Regions from separate parts of the Homo sapiens genome. Here region 2 is linked to region 1. Evidence: fine-mapped expression QTL. Tissue or cell type: putamen. Region 1 holds a variant in brackets; the other region holds the start of a gene. All regions are shown on one strand. Distances are from middle to middle.

The links. PIP is the estimated chance that this variant, and not a neighbour inherited with it, causes the effect.
Region 2: TULP1 starts here. The variant in region 1 is the best candidate, but not a certain one, in a credible set for the expression of TULP1 in putamen (GTEx, PIP 0.63).

The regions. Positions count from the first base shown.
Region 1 is chr6:35,487,246-35,492,659 of GRCh38, reverse strand. The region is part of intron 1 of TEAD3 (TEA domain transcription factor 3); the gene reads left to right. Among named protein-coding and RNA genes, the nearest start is that of TEAD3, 7.1 kb to the left of the region's middle. RefSeq lists enhancers at 1-336, 337-912, 2,065-2,640, 2,641-3,216, 1-3,308 and 2 more. The variant G/A (reference allele first, on the strand shown) is at 2,710.
Region 2 is chr6:35,509,914-35,514,913 of GRCh38, reverse strand. It overlaps TULP1 (TUB like protein 1), which reads left to right and starts at 2,018. Exons shown (of 15, transcript NM_003322.6): 1 at 2,018-2,102; 2 at 2,224-2,275; 3 at 2,644-2,734; 4 at 3,108-3,266; 5 at 3,904-4,053; 6 at 4,986-5,000. The coding sequence starts at 2,056.

The DNA.
Region 1 (5,414 bases):
AGAGAATCTCCAGTCCCAAATTGGAAGCACATTAATAAGCAGGGCGGGGGGTGGGGAGAGAGTGGAGGGGCCCCCACCTCCCTCCTAGTGGGCTCTGCAAATTGCTTCCTCCTGTAAAAATTGAGACCCTGTTCCAGGAAGGAGGGAAGCCCTCCCCAGCCTGGCAGGGTGTGGCTGCTTGGCAGGGTCCCTCCGGGGTCCTTGGGCTGGAGGTGGGGGAGACAGATACATCCCTACTTGCTCTGCTGCCCCAGAGCATGGCTACTTCTAGGGTGGGAGCTTCTGGCAGCTGGAGAACAGCTGGCCCGCTGTGGGGCGGGTAGGGGAGGAGGGAGGAAAAGGCAGAGAGGGTGGGAGCCTCCCTTAGCCCTCCTCAGCTGCCCTCCCCATCCTCGACCCCCCCGGCTGGTCAGCCCAGCTCAGGTTTGAGGGCAGAGATTTGGGAGGAAACTGCTGATTTCACTGATCTTGCCACATTTTGAGTGATGTTCTCACTCCAAGTGAGAATGCTTTGGGGGCTGGGGTCCCTGCAGGGGTGGACTGCTGGCTGCTAGACCCAGGAAGGTCACAGCTCAGCTCGTCCTCCCAGCAGGGCTGGTGCAGGGGAAGGGGTAAGACAGGAGGTGCCCACTCACCCAGACTGGCTTTTTCTGTGCCTCCTACCAAGGCAGTGGCTCTGGGGCCCCTAAAGGGAGCTACAGGGCTGGGTGGTCTGGAGGCTGCAGGGTCTGTGGGGGTGGGGGACCAGGGCCTCTGCAGCGGCCCCAGCTCCAGCCTGATCCCTGGAGCTGTCCAGCCAGTTCTTCCAGCAGGTCTTGCCCCAGGGTGGGGGTGGGCAGCAAGGTGCCCCTTATCTTCCCCAGGGCCCCAAAGCCTGCTCACCCAGCCTCCTAGCCCCCATCCCTGCCTCCACCCAGAGGCCTTCTGAGCCTGAAAGGCTGAGGGCCCTGGGAGAGGGGAAGCGGGTGTGGCTGGTCAGGATGAGGGTGAAGGCAGACTGAGTCCCCTGGGGGTCTGCAGCCTGCTGGCGGGTTTGCAGGACAGGTACAACAGGACTCCTCTGCAGAGGCAGATGGGAGGGGTTCTGAGAGGAGGTGGAGGGTAGGAGCCCCTGAGATGGGAGTGGGGGTGTCCTGGATGGTGGCCAGCCCCAGCCCCTGGCAGTGGCCTCCCTTGTCACTCCCTCCCTCTGTTTTGCCTTGGCCTCTGGGTCTCTGTCCTTGTCCCTGTCTTTTTCTTTCTCCCCATCCCCTCCTGGTCTGCCCCTCCCTCGATGCCTATCATATCTGAGTTTCTGGTCTACCCCTCTCTGCTGTGTGTCTCTTTCTAGGTCTTTGTTGGTTGCCTTGTCTGTGCCCCTCCCCTGCCCTCCTTCTCCCCTTCTCCCTTCACCCCCCACCGGCTCTGTCTGTCAGTCTGTGGGTCTGAGGGTCCAGCACTCCCCCGCCCTGCCTCCACATCTCTCCTGGGGTCTCTCCCTTCACTCTGCGGGGCTCTGGTCTGTCCCCCACTGGGTTGGGCTTTCTGTCTGTCACTCACTGGGACTCTCCTGTCTCTGGTCTGTTTTCTCTCTGGGTTCACCTCAGCTTCTCTTTGCCCCAGACTCTCCCCCAGCCTGTCTCCCCTGCCCCTCCTGTCTGTCTCAGGCCCCACCCCGGCCTTGGTCTCCCTCCCCTTGACCCTCACTTGGGTCTCCTCTCTCTCCTACCCCTCTTCATGGCACAGCACAGCGAGGCAGAGTTTCTAGATACCTGGGCATCATCAGCCAGCAGCCCAGGGCTTGCCCTCTCGCCCGCAGTCAGCTTTCTCTAGATGTCCCACCCCTCCACCAAGCCAGAGTCCCACATTTGCCCCAGCCCAGCCCGCACCTGTCCAGGGAGCCATAGCCTCCTCTCTCAGCCCGGCCTGGGTCCCAGCAGTTAGAGGATCTAGGGAGAAGAAGGCGGGCACATGCTGGTCTCTAGGAGAACAGAGCAGCCAGTGCTCACGCCTCCTGCAGACTCCCTTCCACTGAGACCCCGGTCCAGCCCCCAGACGGGGGCAGCTGCCTGCCCACGACTGCCCATGTGTGTGCCTCAGCTTGGGGGTGCACATTCTCACGTGGTTGTCCTCCCGAGCACTCGCACAGCCCCTCTGCACAGTGTGCTCCTGTGCATGGCTGTGTGTGGGGAGTGCCACTTGCCCCTGTGTTGGTGCCTCTGCCCCAGGAGCGTTCCTAGAAAGTGAGTCTCGCATGCGTCTAGGAGCCAGCCGAAGGGAGGGACGGTGGTCCTATTCTCTCCTTGACACGTCCTTTGGGCCGTCCCCCCTCCCCTCCCCCTCACCAGCTGCCAGCGGTCCCAGCCAGGGGCCGCCTGCCCCGCCCCCCCAGTCTGTCCCAGCTCCCAAGCCTGCTGCTGTGTTCGCCATATTTGGCCACAGTGCTCCCGCGGGGGGCGGGGCGGGGCTGACATCACCCTAAGAAGGGGGGGCCACAGCCTGCTTGAGGGGAGGCGGGCAGGGACTTGGGGGAGGCAGGAAAGTTGCTTTAAAAGTCTGGGGCTGCCTGGGCCGCTGCTGCTCGAGGGAGGCCTCGGGAAAGGGGTTAAGAGGGGCCTTAGCTCATTGTAGCCCCTCTTCTCCCTCCCCTCTAACAGCTCTGTGGCAGTGTCAGACTGACACCTGTGGACAGGCCCTGCATCCCAACTATTTCAACAGGGGAGTCCCTAG[G/A]TGCCCCCACCCAGCTAGCACACCCCTGTCCCCTTAATTTTTTCTTTTTGTTTTTTTAATTTAAATTTAATTTTTAAAAATAGAGACAAGGTTTTCACTATGTTGTCCAGGCTGGTCTTGAACTCCTGGCCTCAAGTGAGCTTCCCAGAGTGCTGGGATTATAGTCGTGAGCCACCACCCCCCACATTTCCTTATTTATTTATTTATATTTATTTTGTTTACCCCTCACATTTCTATTCCAAGAATTCCCCTCTCGTTGAGGAGTAGGGCCTGGGGCTCTGGATCCAGTTTCCTGGGGTGAGGGACAGGCTGGGAATGAGGGCATCTGGCCCCTCTGACAGGTCAGGGGCACAGCTCCTTCTGGCCGCCCACTGGCCATGGGAGAGAGATTCCTGGTGGCTCTGGAGGCATCACAGAAAGGGCTGTACGGCAGTGCGGGGGTCTTCAAGTTGCTCCAGTTGCTTGGGTTGAGGGGGACCTCCTGGGCAGACTTAGGGCAGTTGCTGTGACAGCTGAACCTCCTTTCTCTCTCAGGTGGTGGGGTCTCTCAGCACCCTCCCTATAACCTTCCTGGTTATAAAACCGAAGCCAGCTTACCTGGGTTCAGAACCCAGCCCTAGTACTTACTTGTTGTGTGCCCTAAGGCAAGTTGCTTAACTTCTCTGTTTCTTGGGTTCCTCATCTATAAACTAGGAATAATAATAGTATCTGCCCCATAGGGTTATTGTGAGGATTAAATGAGTCAATGTGTGTGAAATCCCAGAACAGTGCCTGGCATATGACAGGTACTGTTAGTAGTAGTAATATTAAGTCTAGACTCAATAGTTTAGAATAATTACAATAACTAGTTGAATAGCTGAATAACTAACTGAATAATAGTTTAGAATAATCAAGGGCCGGGCGCAGTGGCTCACGCCTGTAATCCCAACACTTTGGGAGGCCGAGGCTGGCGGACCATGAGGTCAGAAGTTTGAGACCAGCCTGGCCAACATGGTGAAACCCCGTCTTTACTAAAAATACAAAAAATTATCTGGGCATGGTGGCATGCGCCTGTAATCCCAGCTACAGGTGCGTGCCACCATGCTGAGGGGGGAGGCTGCATGGGAGTCTGAGGCAGGAGAATCGCTTGAACCCAGGAGGTGGAGGTTGCGGTGAGCAGAGATCGCGCCATTGCACTCTAGCCTGGGCGACAGAGCAAGACTCCGTCTAAAAAATAAAAAACAAATAAAAAATTTAAAAAAGAAAAAAAATAACCGAATAACTGGCTGACATTCAGACCTCCCAGGCCCTCCCCACCTCATTCTACTAGTGATCCCCTCAAGCCTCCCTAAGCAAACAGGTGGCTCTGCAGAGAGAGTCCACCCCGACTCAAGCAGCAGGACCTGGAATTCATCTTCCTCTCCCTGGCTTCTGACGGTGTCCCCTACATCTCCACCCCTCCCCTTTCCCTGCTGCCCAGAGCTAAGTCCCAGGATCCAGCCATCATGGGCTCTTAGGTTTCCAGGACCCTGAATACATTGGACATGTGGGTTCTGGGGCTGAAGGGGATTTGGGGTGAGTCTTGGGGTTGTGAGTGATAGGGGGCCTGGTGGGGTGTGGTCCAAATTAATAGCCTGGCAGGTTCAGGGCACTCACAGTTTACAGAGCCCTGGCCCACATGTAGGATGGGCCAGGGCGGGGGCGGGCGTGTTGGTGGTTTACGGGCTGCTGTGGGGCCTGGAGGTGCGGGAACAGGAAGTGGGATAGAGGAGCGGGTGAGGTTGAGCCAGGCTGTTGGCCAAGCACCTTCTCTGCTGCTCCCTCACCAGTTCCCTTTTTGTAATTCCTGGGGCAGTTCCTGCCCTACATTAGGCCCCTTGGCAGAGTTCTGGTTAGTTATCGATTTGGGGGAAGATAAAATGGTGCCCTTCTGGGTCAGGGACTCTCCTTGTCCCCTGAGGGGTCCTTAGCAGGGTTGCACTGATGCTGGGGCGAGAGTGAGGGGTGGAGGTCCCTGACTGGGGATGTGGACACTGGGGAGGAGGAGCTGACAGGGAGAGCTGAGGAAACACAGCCCTGCTCCTCTGCTCCTCCTCTCTGTGCTCCTCAGCATGCCTTTGGCAGCTGCGTGACCTTGTGAGCCTTAGTTTTCATCTCTGGATAATGGGCTTTATTCCCTACCTTCCCTGCTTTAGTGTTTTTTGTTGTTGTTGTTTGTTTGTTTTTGTGTGTTTTGTTTTGTTTTTTTTTGAGACAAGGTCTGCTCTGTCACCCAGGCTGGAGTGCAGTGGTGCTATCTCCACTCACTGCAACCTCTGCCTCTGGAGTTCAAGTGATCTTCGTGCCTCAGCCTCCTGAGTAGCTAGGATTGCAGGAGTATGCTGCCATGCCCTGCTAATTTTTTTTTTTTTTTTTTTTTTTTTGAGGAGTCTCGCTCTATTGCCTAGGCTGGAGTGCAGTGACGTGATCTCGGCTCACTGCAACCTCTGCCTCCTGGGTTGAAGCGATTCTCCTGCTTCAGCCTCCTGAGTAGCTGGGATTACAAGTGCGTGCCACCATGCCCGGCTAATTTTTGTATTTTTAGTAGAGATGGGGTTTCACCATGTTGGTCAGTCTGGTCTCAAACACCTGACCTCATGATCCAACCACCTCGGCCTCCCAAAGTGATGGGATTATAGGCATGTGCCACTGCGTCCAGACCTGATATATTTTTAGGTAGAGATGGG
Region 2 (5,000 bases), 22 kb before region 1:
AAGCATGTAAGCTGCACGAGGGCGGGGACCACATCATGTTGTTCATCTCTGTATGACCATTATTTAGCATAGCGCTTGGCACACAATAGGTGCTCAGGAAATACTTGTTGACTGACACTCAGCTGTCAGTTTCCTCACCTTTAATATCAGGGTGTTTTCGTTTGGTTGTTTGGTTGTTTGGTTTTGTTTTTGAGACAGGGTCTCACTCCATTGCCCAGGCTGGAGTGCTGTGGCACTGTCTTAGCTCACTGCAGCCTCTGCCTCCTGGGCTCAAGTCATCCTCCTGCCTCAGCCTCCCAAGTAGCTGGGACCTCAGGCATGTACCACATTGCTCAGCTAATTTTTAAATTTTTTGTAGAGACAAAGTCTCACTATGTTGCTCAGCCTGGTCTTGAGCTCCTGGGCTCAAGTGATCCTCCCAAAGTGCTGGGATTACAGGCATAAGCCACTGCTCCTTGCCCTAATATCAGGGTGTTAATGTCTGTCTCATAAATATTATTGTGAGGGTGGAGTCAGAATGGGAGCAAGCCACAGTAGGTGGACAATAAATGCTATTATTATTATATGGTCAGAGCCAACTGAGGACTGAGGCCTCTCCGAAGTGGCGACTTGAGGACTGTTTAGAGTTGGATAGGTTTCATGGAATAGGGAGGGCGTTCCGGGAGGGAACAGCCTGAGCAAAGGCATGGAGGACAGAACTGTAAAGGCAGTAAGGAAACCTCTGTGGCTGGATGAAGAGTATGGCTTGGGATAACCCTGTGGTTAGAAAGGCAGACTGGGGCCAGATCAGGGAGAGCCTTGAATGTCAACCCAACACATTTAAACTTAATCCTTAGGCAGTAGGGAGCCAATGAATGTTTTTGAACAAAGGTGGCAACCGAAGAAATAGTATTTTAGAAAGTTCCATTTGATATGGATTTACTGTAATTAGCCAGGATCGTGCCACTGCACTCCAGCCTGGGTGACAAGAGCAAAATTCTGTCTAAAACAAAACAAAACAATACCACAAAAGCATGTCCCCTATCAGTGAAAAAAGAAAAAGAGTTAAGGGTATACCTCCAATACAGACATATTCTTTTTTTTTTTTTTTTTTCTGAGATGTAGTCTTGCTCTTTTTGGCCAGGCTGGAGTGCATTGGCAAGATCTCGGCTCACTGCAACCTCCGCCTCCCAGGTTCAAGTGCTTCTCCTGCCTCAGCCTCCCCAGTAGCTGGGACTACAGGTGCCCACCACGATGCCCAGCTAATTTTTTATTTATTTATTTATTTATTTTGAGACGGAGTCTCACTCTGTTGCCCAGGCAGGAGTGCAGTGGCATGATTTCCGCTCACTGCAAGCTCCGCCTCCCAGGTACACGCCATTCTCCTGCCTCAGCCTCCTGAGTAGCTGGGACTACAGGTGCCTGCCGCCATGCCCGGCTAATTTTTGCATTTTTAGTAGAGATGAGGTTTCACCATGTTAGCCAGGATAGTCTCGATCTCCTGACCTTGTGATCCGTCTGCCTCGGCCTCCCAAAGTGCTGGGATTACAGGGGTGAGCCACCGCACCCGGCTAATTTTTGAATTTTTAGTAGAGACTGGGTTTCACTGTGCCGGCCAGGCTGGCCTCGAACTCCTGACCTCAAATGATCCACCTGTCTCAGCCTCCCAAAGTGCTGGGATTACAGGTGTAAACCACCGCACCTGGCTCTAGTTCTTATTTTTTGTGAGAAATAAAGATAAATACAGGATCCAGTCTAATGTTTTCTTCCACATCCCATTGACAAATGACTAATCGGCCCCTCTCACCCCAAGCTTCTGGGGGCTTCTCGGGGCAGGTGGAGCTGGTGGCCATCCTGCAGGCTGCTGGGGATCTGAGAAGAACTGGAGTTGAGATTCTTCCCCCAGTGGCCTGGGCCTAGCAGGGGAGGGTCGTGGGCTGTAGCACCTCCCACAGCGCGGCCAGGCCTCCACTCCTTGAGCAGGGGGAAGGGGGGTGAAGTTGAGCCGAGATTAGCAGGAGTCGGGAGGGAGGCTCCTAGACCTGCAGAGAAAGGGGTGCGATAGGCAAAGGCACCATGCCTCTGCGGGATGAAACCCTCCGAGAGGTGTGGGCCTCTGACAGGTCTGGAAGGCCCCCAGTTCGTGGCACCTGAACCCTGGGGGGCCTAGATGGAGGGATGGGGAGTGGGTGGGATGGGGAGGGAAGGGGAAGGGAGACAGGCTGATCCCTTTGCTACCCTCAGTGGGCATGAAGAAGAAAGCCTGAGCCCGGAGGCCCCGCGGCGCCCCAAACAGGTATGCCACCCCACTTGGAAAGGAAGCAGAAAGATGTCCCCGCTGTGCGTAAACCCACGCAGGGTAGGGGGTCTAGGGGTGGGACAGGTCCCCCTTAGCAGGGTCTGGGGGTTGCATGTCTGGAGATCTGGGGGGAGAAAGGGCTGTTTGGGGACTTGGGGTTTCCAGGGAAGGAATAGGGACTTTGGAGCATTGGATATGGCCACGATGCATGGAAGGGGTCATCCTGCCTCACTCCAAGAAGGGGGCTGCAGTTCCCCCCGGATAATCTGCGGTTATTTCTGGCGGCTCAAGGGATTAGAGGGGGATGGGCGGGCCTCAGCGCCCCCCTTTCCTTCCTCGACCTCCTCTTGACCCCCGTTCCGCAGCGACCCGCCCCGGCACAGAGGCTAAGGAAGAAGAGGACGGAGGCCCCCGAATCCCCCTGCCCCACGGGATCCAAGCCCCGGAAGCCCGGAGGTGGGCGGGGTGCAGAGCCCGGGTGGACCCCCAGGGTGTGGGCTGCGGAAGGGAGGGGCTTGAGGGCCGGCGCGGGTGTCGCCGAGCCCTGGAACGGGGTGGGGGAGGAGGGGGCGGGGAGTGATGAGAGGGGAGGGATTGGGGTTGGGGTTGGGGTTGGGGTTGGTGTAGAAGGGGGTGGCGTTGGGGTAGAAGGGGGTGGGAAGCTGAATGGAAGCCGGGGAGAAGTGTTGAAAGTGGAAACCCAAGCCCAGGGGAGATCCCTAGGGTGAGGAGCCCGAGGGGGTGCGCCCAGGCTTGGGGGTAGCGGGTAGAGGCGCTGCCTCGCGGACCCGCGGATGGGACCCTGTCTGAACCCCGCATCTCGGCTCAGCTGGGCGGACGGGGAGGCCGCGGGAGGAGCCTTCCCCAGACCCAGCCCAGGCCCGGGCGCCGCAGACGGTCTACGCCAGGTTCCTCAGGGACCCCGAGGCCAAGAAGCGCGACCCCCGGGAAACCTTTCTGGTAGCCCGTGCCCCAGACGCGGAGGACGGTGAGAGAGGGCCCCAGGGACGCGGGTGAGGGGGCGGTGGAGCTAAGGAGAGAAGGGGCTGGCTGGACGGGAACGGCCCAGAGAGGCAGAAAACAACTGTAGTCAAATAGCCCCCACTTTTCTGGCCTTATCTTTGAGCCAGGTATTGTGCTAAGCACCAACTATGAGAGGGTGCTTTGTTCCCCCCCTCCACCATTGTACAGATGGAGAAACTGAGTCATAGAGCCGTTAAGGGTTTTTGCCTTAACCAGCAGTTAGGAGCCAGAAGTAGCCCAGATGGGTCTGACTCAAGGTCAGAAACAGACAAGGTCAGGGAGAAGCACAGTGGATGCAGGGAGATGGGGAAAGGAGGCAAGGCGAGCGTGTAAGGAGAGGAGGGTCTCAGGAGGAGAGAGGGAGGGCATTTCCCCAGGACAGGATTCCTCCAACCCCAGCCACTCCCCTGATTTGCAGACCCTGAAGGCTGCCAGTCACCCTCATTCTTCTGGGAAGGTGCCAGGTCTCCGGTTCTTGTTTCAGAAGGGCAGGCTCCCCTTCTGGTGCCCATGCACCACTTCCCAGCAGTCTGGAGGAACTGGGCTCCCCAGATAAGGAGGGCCCGGCTCAAACCCCCATTATGAAGAGTTTCTACCTGCAGAGGAGGAGGAGGAAGAGGAGGACGAGGAGGACGAGGAAGAGGAGGCAGAGGAAAAGAAAGAGAAAATCCTTCTGCCTCCCAAGAAGCCCCTGAGAGAGAAGAGCTCCGCAGACCTGAAGGAGAGGAGGGCCAAGGCCCAGGGCCCAAGGGGTGGGTGCTGAGGGTGCTGAGAGAGCTCACAGGGAAGCAGAACAGCCCTGTCCTTGGAGGGCTTGGCGTCTCACTGAGACACAGCGATTGAGGCCTCAAAATGAACCCAGTGCTGTGACCGGAGGGTTTTTCCTCTGATAATTTCTCCCCACGATGGTCCTTAAGGACATAGACCAATATATGCCTCCACCCCTGGCCCCACTGCCCCTGCCCCTTGAGCTCTGTGAGGCAGAGGAGGACAGAGGATTCTAGTTTTCTTTGTGATTTTTGTTTAGTTTTTGTTTTAACTCAGTGGAAATTGTTATCATTTTTATAAAAGTATCAAAGTGATTACAGTAAAAAGAAATCAATGAATCAATGCTGTGATGGTGTCCTGGCCTGGGCACATTACCTGTTAGGGACCAGCAGCCTGGCCTAGAGCTAGGACCTTGGGCCTCTGAAGCAGAGATAGCACACTCTGTAGTGGTGACCAGAGAAGGTTTCCTGGAGGACATGGGACAAAAGGCAGGATTCAGAGGCTCGGTTAGAAGGCCTGGTGTTCATTCATTCGGGAACTGCTTGTTAAGCTCCTGGTCTTTGTCCAGAGCTTTTTTGGCCTCAGGGAAAGAAAAACCAAAATGAGCAGAAGTCAATACAAAAATTAGCCAGGGGTGGTGGCGCGCGCCTGTAATCCCAGCTACTTGGGCGGCTGAGGCACAAGAATCACTTGAACCCTGGAGGTGGAGGTTGCAGTGAGCCGAGATCCTGCCACTGCATTCCAGCCTGGGCAACAGTGAGACTGTCTCAAAAAAAAAAAGAAAAAGAAGGCAGGCTGTGGGCCCCTGTCAAGCTTTCAGCCTCCCTGGGGACTATAGGCAGGACAAGAGGGTTGGAAGGCAGCCTTCAGCCCCAGTAGACACCTTCTTTGCCTGACCCCCATCTTCCATTTCCAGGAGACCTGGGAAGCC